Linked DNA regions of Homo sapiens: region 1 is linked to region 2. The links come from fine-mapping of genetic effects on gene expression. A gene starts in region 2. The other region holds a variant in brackets. All regions are shown on one strand. Distances are from middle to middle.

Region 1 (5,373 bases), 29 kb after region 2:
CGTCGGACGGAGACCGGGCCACAGGGTGGGCGGCCCTGGCCGAGAAGGCTGTGGCGCGCCGCTGGGTCTGGGTCAGGGCCCCTGGGGCCCAGGCGAACGCTGAGGCCCGGAGGGGCCAAGGATGGGGACCGCAGCTCCCGGCGCCGCGGGGTGGAAGGAGCTCGGCGGCGACCAGGAAAGCGACTCCGAGTTGGGGGGCGGGGGCGGGGGCTGCGGGATTCCCGGGCTCACCTTGGACTAGGGGAGCAGGAACGAGACCGCTCAGGACCATCCACTTCTGCCCGCCGCCAGCCTTTTCCTTTTTGAGGCCGTGTAATTTCCTCCTTGCAGCTGAGGGTCTGGGTGATGGGGATGAGGGTGTGCCGGGCCAAATGAAGTGTGACTCCAGAGCCTACTTGTTGGGACAGCAGAGTGTAAGTGGCTGGGGTCTGCAGCCCCGTTTCCAGGTCAGCCGCTTGGCCCTGGTCCCGGGAAGTGGTGGGGGCGGCAGTCGGGGCGCTGTTAAGCAGGTGTATGAATGTGCTTCTCTAACTTGCTCTTTAGTGGGCAGTGGTAGCATTCATTTGAGTTTAAAATCCACTCGAGTAGCATAAAGGAGTAATAGGTCCTCATAGTAAACATTGGCAGGGTTCATTTCTGCTACATATACGGTCTTTTATGGGGCTTTAAAACCGTGGTTGTTTTCATTTGCTTGTACCTTTTTTTTTTTTTGAAAGGCCCACTATGCATTATAATTTCCAAGCAATAAATCTAGGAACCAGCAAGAAACCTGGAGCTATCAGCTAGTGGGACTTTTTTGGAAAAGTAATGAGTGAGGAGAGAGATTCCTTCAATTGTGATGTTTTGTCAGTCCACCGAATCAGATTCAGACTCAGAGGCTTGTTTGTTTACCATTGCAGTGTGTTTGGGGGGTCATCATCTGGAGGCTAAAGCTCACAATAGCCTTCTGTTTCTCTTTTCGTTCAAGCTCTTCTGATGACTTCAAAGAGACCTTTTATTCTGTTGTATTAAAGTGAGACTTTTTTGAACCTCAGTTTCCTCTTCTGACAGCCGTGCTTTGTAGGGCTTGAATTGTTCAAAGCATTCACTTCCAGTTAAGAAAATTATTATCTTTTTAAAAAGGGCTATTTATTTCACGCTGTGTGTCTTTAATCCTATTCTGTAGACATGTGAGAAGGCACATACAGGACAGAATTTGTTAAACTTGCTATCATTTGTGCCTAAAGGGAGTATGGCATAAGGGTTGAAATTTAGGATAGGGAGTCAAGAGTAATTCAGCTATTAAATTTGATTTTTGACTTGACTATTGGCAAGTAAGTCTTATAACCTTTCAGGGAATAGTGTCGAGTCCTTTAGGTTTATTTTGTATTGAAAATAAAGAGATAGATGTTTCTAAATACTCACAAATTACTTTCCCTAGGAAGCATTCATGATTTCTACAGCCCCAGCCCATGTGCCTACCCACACCTTAATCTTGATTAGTTTGTCCTGTAATTACTTCTTTACTTTTTGTCTCCACCAGGCTACAAGAGGAGGGGCACTTCTTCCTCACTTTTGAGTCTCATTCCCTGGTTTTTGATAGGATTTCAAATGTGTTTATCAAATGACTAAATAATCCAACTTCAACCTTACTATGCCTCTTTTTCTGTTTATGTAAAATGGTAATTGTAAACATTGAAAAAATAACTTAGAGATCAGTGCTTTAGCTAGGTGGCGAAAGATGTAATAGGATTCTGTTTTTATTGTAAGGGTGTGTGTGTGTGTGTGTGTGTGTGTGTGTCTGTGTGTGTGTGTGTGTGTGTGTGTGTAGAGACAGCGTCTCACCATGTTGTCCAGGCTGGTGTGTGTGTGTGTGTGTGTGTGTGTGTGTGTGTGTGTGTGGAGACAGCGTCTCACCATGTTGTCCAGGCTGGTCTGGAACGCCTGGGCTCAGGCCGTTCTCCTGCCTCAGCCCCACAAAGTGCTGGTATACAGATGTGAGCCACCACACCTGGCCCTGCAGATCTTTTCTTTAAAAAATAAAATAATTTAGGGTAGAAAATGGCAGTTCTTGTAGGGATGACTGACCACAAAAGACA[G/A]TGACTCACAGGAGACCCATAGAGGCAGATGTGGTAGAGTAAAAAACTGTAGCATTGTCTTGCGTAATTTTTTGACTGTTCTGTGTTCTTGTCATTTTAGCTGTAAAGTTTGACTGAGAAATGTTGCATCAGCCCTGAAGTTTATTGAGAAAATCTTACGCTGATGCAAACTTTTTGGACTGTTAGTGTCTTATGAGTAAGTCTTTTTTAAAACAGGAACTGTTGGAAATTATTTTGGAAAGAAGTAGTTGTTAAGAGGGGTATGTAGAAGAGAAAGGCACTGTTTTTTCTTGGGGAGATTGAAGTTGGCTTTCCAGCTTGGTAGCTGAAGGGAGATGGTGTTCCAGAAGTCAGAGCTCTACTCTCGCTTTGAAATGCTGAATCTCTAGGAAGTTACTCCTTGGCTGTAGACAGAAACATACGGAGTTAGAGACAGACTTGGGGTTGGAAGAGGCAAGACCTTAATACAGGTCTGAGCTGATACTTGCTAGTCATGTGATATAGGCTGGGCAAGTCACTTAAACCTTTTTGAAGTTTAGTTTTGTCATCTGTAAATGGGAGTAATAAATGCCTGCCCTGCCTGCCTCCCAAGGTTGTTAGGAAGATCAAATGAAATCATCTTGATGAAGTATTTGTAAAATGTATTCCTTCCTCCCTCCATCTCTTCACTCCCTGACAACATTTGTGCAAAGCGTTAAACACATTAGAGGGCGTTATTGCAAGCAAGCTCATTTCTGTCCATAGTTCCTTTCATTTATCAAGTTTGTTTAACCTTGGGAAACATATATATATATATATATATATATATATATATATTTTTTTTTTTTTTTTTTAATACCAATGGGGTTCTTGCTGTGTTGCCCAGGCTGGTCTTGAACTCCTGACCTCAAGTGATCCTCCCACCTCAGCCTCCCAAAGTGCTGGGATTATAGGTGTGAACCACTGCACCCAGCTGGGAAACCACCTATAACAGAAATGATTTAGGATTTGTGAACTTGGTAGGGAAAAATTCTGTGGTTTGGAAAACTGAGTCACCAGAAGGATGAAGGGAACACAAGGTCACCACCAGAAAGGCATATTTGGATGAGCAACTGGCAGAAAGGACATGTGTTGGTAGGTGATTCTGTGCTTTGCTGATGCTGATGCATCATTTTTATGGAGCAAAATGAATTTAGCATTAAGAGCTAGACCAGCCCTCTGCTGCAAGGAAATGAAGCTTCTATAAAATCAGAAAGGCTAGTATTTAGGGGGAGGATGCTTTCAGGTTAGGTTTGGAGGAAGAAGGAAGATTTTCCAGACAAAAGGAATTCTGGTGAAAAGCCACACAGGTGAGTTGTGAGAAAATTTAGGAGGACCAAGAGAGGACAAGGGAAAGGTAAGTTCTTGGCTATATAAAAGGGAAAACTTTTTAAAGTTAGTAGACTAAAAAAATGCTTACATAGCTGAAATAGAAACCAGAGGAAACAAAGTTTTGGAAAGCGCTGTTATCAAATGTGCACATCCAATTTTTGCTGGTGGGTAGGCTGTGTGTGATAGCTTTTCATCTCAGTTTTCTCCTTTTTTTGGGGGGTGGGGGACAGAGTCTCGCTCTGTCACCAGACTAGAGTGCAGGTCGCAATCTCAGCTCACTGCAACCTCCACCTCCCAGGTTCAAGCGATTCTTCTGCCTCAGCCTCCCAAGTAGCTGGGATTACAGGTATGCACCACCATGCCTGGCTAATTTTTGTATTTTTAGTAGAGATGGGGTTTCACCACGTTGACTAGGCTGGTCTTGAACACCTGACCTCAGGTGATCCACCTGCCTCGGGCTCCTAAGGCGCAGGGATTACAGGTTTGAGCCACCATGCCTGGCAGTTTTCTCCTTTTTAAATATTCTTCTGTGGAGTTCATCTGGATCAGGGACTGTTTATCTTCCATTTGGACATTTTGTTTTTGAGAAACAGATAATTATAGTGATAGTTAAGGCACAATAGAAAACATTTTTTAAAATCAGTGGAAAAGATAATATTACATGTTAAAATCTTTACTGAAAATGGATCTCTCCTTGAACTTTTGATATTTGGAAACTGCATTCCTGCATGGCTTATTTATTCAGCTATACTCATTCATTCAACAAAAATGTATTAAATGCCTACTATGTGCCAGGCACATGCTAGAGATAGAATGGTGAACCAGACAGCTCCTGCATCCATGGAGCTTTTGTTCTGTTGGATTCCAAGGTCTTTTTTTTTTCATTGTGAGACAGGTTCTTGCTCTGTCACCCAGGCTAGAGTACAGGACCACAGCTCACGGCAACCTCAGTCTCCTGGCTCAAGGAATACTCCTGCCTCAGCCTCCTGAGTAGCTGGGACTATAGGCATGCACCACCATACCTGGCTAATTCTTTGATTTTTAGTAGAGATGGTGTCTTGCTATGTTGTCCAGGTTGGTCTCAAACTCCTGAGTTCAAGTGATCCTCCTGCCTCGGCCTCCCAAAATGCTGGGATTATAGGTGTGAGCCACTGTACCTGGCCTCAACTAGGATCTTTACCATTCATAAAACAGATGGTTTTAGTGGCTTGGTTTATTGATCTTCAGCTTCTCATCAGTGACCCGACCCTTTTTATAGACTTTTAAACTTTATTTATTTATCACCAGAATAACTATTCAAATGTAATGGCAAATTAGGAGACATTGCTGCTTTCAGATCCTGAAATTTTAGGGTAATCTAGTACTCAGTATCAGAATTTGAACTTCCTTTTAGAATGCTACTTGGAAGTTTCTTTAGAATTCTAAGTTATACTGAATACTTTAAAAATTTCTTAGCCAGGCGTGGTGGCTCGCACTTGTAATCCCAGCACTTTGGGAGGCCGAGGCAGGCAGATCATCTGAGGTCAGGAGTTCGAGACCAGCCTGACCAGCATGGTAAAACTCAGTCTCTACTAAAAATACAAAATTAGCTGGGCGTGGTGGCACATGGCTGTCGTCCAGCTACTTGGGAGGCTGAGGCAGGAGAATCCCTTTAACCCGGGAGGTGGAGGCTGCAGTGAGCCGACATCACGCCATTGCACTCTCCGTCTCAAAAAAAAAAAAAAAGTTTCTTTAGGCCAGGCGCGGTGGCTCATGCCCATAATCCTAGCACTTTGGGAGGCTGAGGCGGGTGGATCACCTGAGGTCAGAAGTTCGAGAACAGCCTGGCCAACGTGGTGAAACCCTGTCTCTACTAAAAATACAAAAATTAGCTGGGCATGGTGGGGTGTGCCTGTAATCCCAGCTACTTGGGAGGCTGAGGCAGGAGAATTGCTTGAACCTGTGA
Region 2 (5,331 bases):
TTGCTTTCTCCACCTCTTCCCACATCTGGAACAAGCCCTGTCTCCTCTGAAGGAAGAAGAAAGTAGGAACCACAGAACTGGAGAGCATGGCCAAGGTTGAGGACTGAAGCTTCTGGAAACAACACAGTGGGATTTTGAGAAAATAATTGAGGAAGGAGATCCCCGCTGACTCAACTGTCCTGTGCAAGGCAACCCTTTGCCCCCCAACCCAAGCAAAACCAGCACATCCATTTATGAACAAATGCCTTCAGTAAATAGATGTTGGGTCACCATTGGGTACCAGGAACTGGGATGCAGTGGTGAGAAACACAGACAAGGCCCCATCCTCATGGGGGTTACACTAAAGTTTCCCTTCCCACTGCAGCCCCTCAATTGGTGGTAATACAGTGCAGTATGGAGAGCACTGGCTAGAATCAGACAGCCCATGCCACTGCTTATAACTGTGATCTTGAGCAAATAACTTAGCCTCTCTGTGCCTCAGTTTCTTTTCCTGTTGCCAGGCTAGAGTGCAGTGGTGTGATCTCGGCTTACTGCAACCTCTACCTCCCAGGTTCAAGCAATTCTCCTGCTTCAGCCTCCCGAGTAACTGGGATTACAGGTGTGCACCACCGTGCCCAGCTAATTTTTGTATTTTCAGTAGAGATGGGGGTCTCACCATGCTGGCCAGGCTGGTCTCGAATTCCTGGCCTCAAGTGATCTGCCCGCCTCAGCCTCCCAAAGTGCTGGAATTACAGGCATGAGCCACTGCGCCTGGCCTGTGCCTCAGTTTCTACCTCTAAAATGGTGATGATCATAGTAATAGCCATCTCAGGATTGTGTGAGGGTTCCATGAGATGACATATGTAAAATATTTTGCATAGTGCCTAGCACAAAGTAAGTCTTTACTTTGTGGGTCTTTCCAGGACGGCCTAGATAGAACACCTACTATGTGCTGGGAGTCACAAGGGACACTGAGAGTGGGTCCTATCTTTGGGGAGTGCTTGACATAGGAGATCTTGAGGAGAGGAGATGCTAGATATAATTTTGTAGGCTGGGCGCGGTGGCTCACGTCTGTAATCCCAACACTTTGGGAGGCGAGGTGGGTGGATTGCCTGAAGTCAGGAGTTTGAGACCTGCTTGGCTAACATAGTGAAACCCTGTCTCTACTAAAAATACAAAAATTAGGCCAGGCGCGGTGGCTCACGCCTGTAATCCCAACACTTTGGGAGGCCGAGGTGGACAGATCACGAGGTCAAGAGATTGAGACCATGCTGGCCAACATGGTGAAACCTCGTCTCGACTAAAAATACAAAAATTAGCTGGGCATGGTGGTGCATGCCTGTAGTCCCAGCTACTTGGGAGGCTGAGGCAGAAGAATCACTTGAAGGGAGGCGGAGGGTGCAGTGAGCCAAGATGGCGCCACTGCACTCCAGCCTGGGCGACAGAGCGAGACTCCATCTCAATAAATAAATTATAATATAATGAAAAAAATGTGTAGAATGACTCGGGCGCAGTTGCTCACGTCTGTAATCCCAGCACTTTGGGAGGCCAAGGTGGGCAGATCACTTGAGGCGAGGAGTTCGAGACCAGCCTGGCCAACATGGTGAAACCCCGTCTCTACTAAAAATACAAAAATTAGCCAGGCATGGTGGAGCATACCTGTAGTCCTAGCTACTCAGGAGGCTGAGGTGGGAGAATCGCTTGAGCCCTGGAGGCGGAGGTAGCAGTAAGCCAGATCGCGCCAGTGCACTCCAGCCTGGGCGACAGAGTGAAACTGTCTCAAAAAAACAACGAAAAAATTGTTGAATGAATGAATGAATGCATGAAGAAATGGATAACTATGAAGCACCGTCCAAGGCGGAAAAAACCCGCCCTAAACCGCACCCCAAGCAAATTGCACACACGGCTTTCCCGGAGTGGACACCAGAGGGCGCTGAGCTCGGCCGCTCTCAGCTCCGGATCAGGATTCGCGCCTGGGTCCTTAGGACGACGCCGCGTGGTGACGTCATATCCGCCTGGGCGTCACGCTTCGTGGGGCGGGACGAGGAGAAGCCAAACGTAAAGACACCAGGAGTTTCTCGGGCCCAGCTGTGGCTGCTGCCGGGGAGCCCCAAGCCTTGGCGGGTCCTTGCGGCGAATAGGAGTCTGGTCAGGCGTCAGGCTAGTCCGACGAAGAGTGGGTAGGTGGAAGCCTTCCAAAGAGCGGCGGTTGTCTGGGAGCCGTCTCAGTTGGCCGCGACCCGGGCGCATGCGCGGGGCGGGCGGTGCGCCTTGGGTAGCTTGTCCTCTCCGACCCCGGGCGCTGAGGGCCTCTGTACGGCGCCGCGTAGGGTCTCGGCCGCAGAACGTGGCCGAGAGGCCCGGGCGAGACTTCGGGACCGTGTCCTGAGCGCTCTCCATGCGCCCGGCGCGAGGTGAGCGCTAAATAGTGGTTGTTGAAAAATATTGAAAGCCACCCAAGTGCTCAGCAGTAAGGATATTGAGCTTTTTAAAGTGATTGATTTAGTCCAAAAATTGTACGTCGCACGCCCACTGTGCACGACCCAGTGTTTTAGGGCCTTGGGAAACAGCAGTGAACAAGATAGCAAGATTCTTGGAGTGGACTTTTGTTGGGGTGGGGAGGGGAAGTACAGATAAAGATAAACGAGTTACATAATTGTCATAGAAAAAGGCAAATGCTACGAAGAAGAAAGCAGGGACGGGGCATGGGGGTGGGGTGCGGTGTTAGCCGAGAAGGGCACTGGGCCAACCCGATTGAGATTTGAGCTAAGCCAGGAAGGGGGCAAGGGTGTGAGTCCGGTGGCTGCCTGGAGGAAGATCTTTCCCAGCATGGGGAAAAGCTAGAGCCGAGGCCCAGCGGTGGGAGCGAGACTGGCGCGTGAGAAAGAGCTAGGCTAGGCCTGTGTGGTGGCGGGGATTGAGCGGAGGGAGAATGGCAGGACATGAAGTCAGAGGTGTAGAGGGAGCAGTCCTGCAGGTGAGGCAGAGCCTTGCAGGCTGCTCTAAGGACTTTGGCCTTACTCTGGATAAAACGGGAACCATAGCAAGATTTTGAGCAGAGGAATGATGTAGCTTGAGTAGATGTTAATAGACTCACTGGCCGCCGTAGGGATGGAGAAGCGGGGGAGTAGGGAGAATCAGATTTATTACTAATAGGTCAGATTAGGAGCATCCCTGCGCAGCCACTAAAAAAGGCTGACTCTAGGCCGGGCGCGGTGGCTCATGCCTGTAATCCCAGCACTTTGAGGGGGCCGAGGTCGGCGGATCACTTGACGCCAGGAGTTCGAGACCAGCCTGGGCCAACATGGCGAAACCCCATTTGTACTAAAAATACAAAAGTTAGCTGGGCGTGATGACGTACGCCTGTAATCCCAGCTACTCAGGAGACTGAGGAGCGAGAATTGCTTCGACCCAAAGCACTCCAGCCTGGGCGACAGAGTGAGACTCCATCTCAAAACAAACAACAAGACTGACTTTAAAGATGACGATGACAGTAACTTCGTGAGCCCACATCTGTGGAGAGCCTGGTGAATATATTTAATACCAGTCTGTACAAAATAATTTCCCAGGTATCCTCTCCTTTAATGTCAGAACAGCCTGCAGAGGGCAGTGCTGTCATTTGTAAGTCTTTTTTTTTTTTTTTAATTGCAAAAAATACGTGACATAAAATTTATCGTAAGTAGCATTGAGTACATTCACAACGCTGTGCAGCCATCACCACTGTCCATCTCGTGAATGTTGTGTAAGTCTTCGTTTTACTGGCATCTAAGCCCTGGGTCTAATTTCACTCCCCTATTTTAGGCAGCCAGCTCCATCAAGGCAGTAACACTAAAAAACATTTATGTGCCAAGCAATGAAAGAAACAGATGAGGTTTCTTGTTCTCCCTGCCCTTCTAGTTAGGGGAGACTCTAGTGACTGGGAAAGAAGCATCAGGTAACTATTTCCGCTGTCCTGAAACCAAGGATTCTTTTGAATATATAGGCCTATACCACTATCACTTTTCTCTCATTTGAATACCTACTTTGTGTCATAGTATTACAGTATTTTTTGTTTGTTTGTTTTGGAGACAGGGTCATGCTCTGTCACCCAGGCTGGAGTGCAGTGGTACAATCACAGTGCACTGTATCCTTAACCTCCCAGACTCAAGCTATCCTCCCACCTCAGCCCCTGGAGTAGCTGGGACTACAGGCACACACTACCATGCCTGGTTAATTTAAGTTTTTTTGTTTTTTTTTTTAGTGACAGGGTCTCACTATGTTTCCCAGGCTGGTCTCAAACTCCTGGCCTCCCAAACTGTTGAGATTACAGGCATGAGCACCACGCCAGGCCCCAAAGTATTAATGTTTGTTGAATGGATTGGTAGATGTAGCTCCTTGACCCTGACTTCTTTTCTCCAGAGGTCATCATCTGGGAGTGGTTGGAACTGGGTCTAACCCAGAGTGGTTTTGAAATGCTGGTCCATAGCTCTGTGACCTTGGATAAGTCCCTTTCCTTGATTGGGCCTCAGTTTCCTGTTCCCTGTAGTGGGGGATCCATATATTAAACAAATAGACAGTGTTAAGAGATTGCATAACATGGGGGCTTAACTTAGAGAAGGGTGTCAGAGAAGACCTTCATGAAGAGGTGGTATTTAAACTGAAAGTTGAAGGATGAATAGGACCTATCCAGAGGGAGAGCAAGGTTGGCATGGAGCCAAGGAAAGGAACTGTCTACAGAGAGATGAGCATGTTCTACGTTCTTGAAAGTTCAGACCTTTTAGAAGCTGCATTGAGTGCCCCTTCCAGGAATCCCTCTTCTCAACCCCTGTGCTGTTTAAGCTCAGTTGTTCACAGATAGTCTTGCACAGACCTGGCTTTTGGACTGAGAGCAGGCAGACACAGGATGGGAGGAGACGGCAGAACGACCATCCCTCATTCTTCTCTTTGTGTTCTGTGTTGACTGAGAGTAAACAAGAAGAGGACCTTCAAATCTTAGATTTTACTCCTTTATGTCTTTTCTTTTTCTTTGGATAAAGAGGCATCGTAACTGGTCTTGAGTGGGCTCAGAGTGGTTGGAATCTCTGGGCACCCTTGGGCAGATGTTACCTACGTTTACTAAACCTCTGTGTCATCTTCTCGAAAATGGGAATAATAATACCTCTTACCTCAGGAGCATTTTGAAGACAAGCTAAGGCATGTGAAATGTTTAGCAAAGAGCTGGGTGCTCATAAGGAAAATTGTTAGCCAAAATTATGTTGTTATGTTTTAAGTAAGAGTACAGTGATTTGACATTTATAGAATATAGAAACTTATTTTGTATTCGTATGGGTAACCTTAGTTTGATCAGAATTAGATGAGTTACTGTGCTCAGAA

What was found. PIP is the estimated chance that this variant, and not a neighbour inherited with it, causes the effect.
Region 1: its variant is fine-mapped to the expression of HTD2 in whole blood (TOPMed, PIP above 0.99). The same link has a PIP of 0.9 or more in lung.

What each region holds. Positions count from the first base shown.
Region 1 is chr3:58,333,179-58,338,551 of GRCh38, forward strand. All of the region lies in intron 1 of PXK (PX domain containing serine/threonine kinase like), which reads left to right. Among named protein-coding and RNA genes, the nearest start is that of PXK, 3.0 kb to the left of the region's middle. RefSeq lists silencers at 1-17, 264-558. The variant G/A (reference allele first, on the strand shown) is at 2,079.
Region 2 is chr3:58,304,259-58,309,589 of GRCh38, forward strand. It overlaps HTD2 (hydroxyacyl-thioester dehydratase type 2), which reads left to right and starts at 2,262. Exons shown (of 5, transcript NM_001348712.2): 1 at 2,262-2,393. It overlaps RPP14 (ribonuclease P/MRP subunit p14), which reads left to right and starts at 1,987. Exons shown (of 6, transcript NM_007042.6): 1 at 1,987-2,159. RefSeq lists enhancers at 1,773-1,852, 2,043-2,302, 2,423-2,552.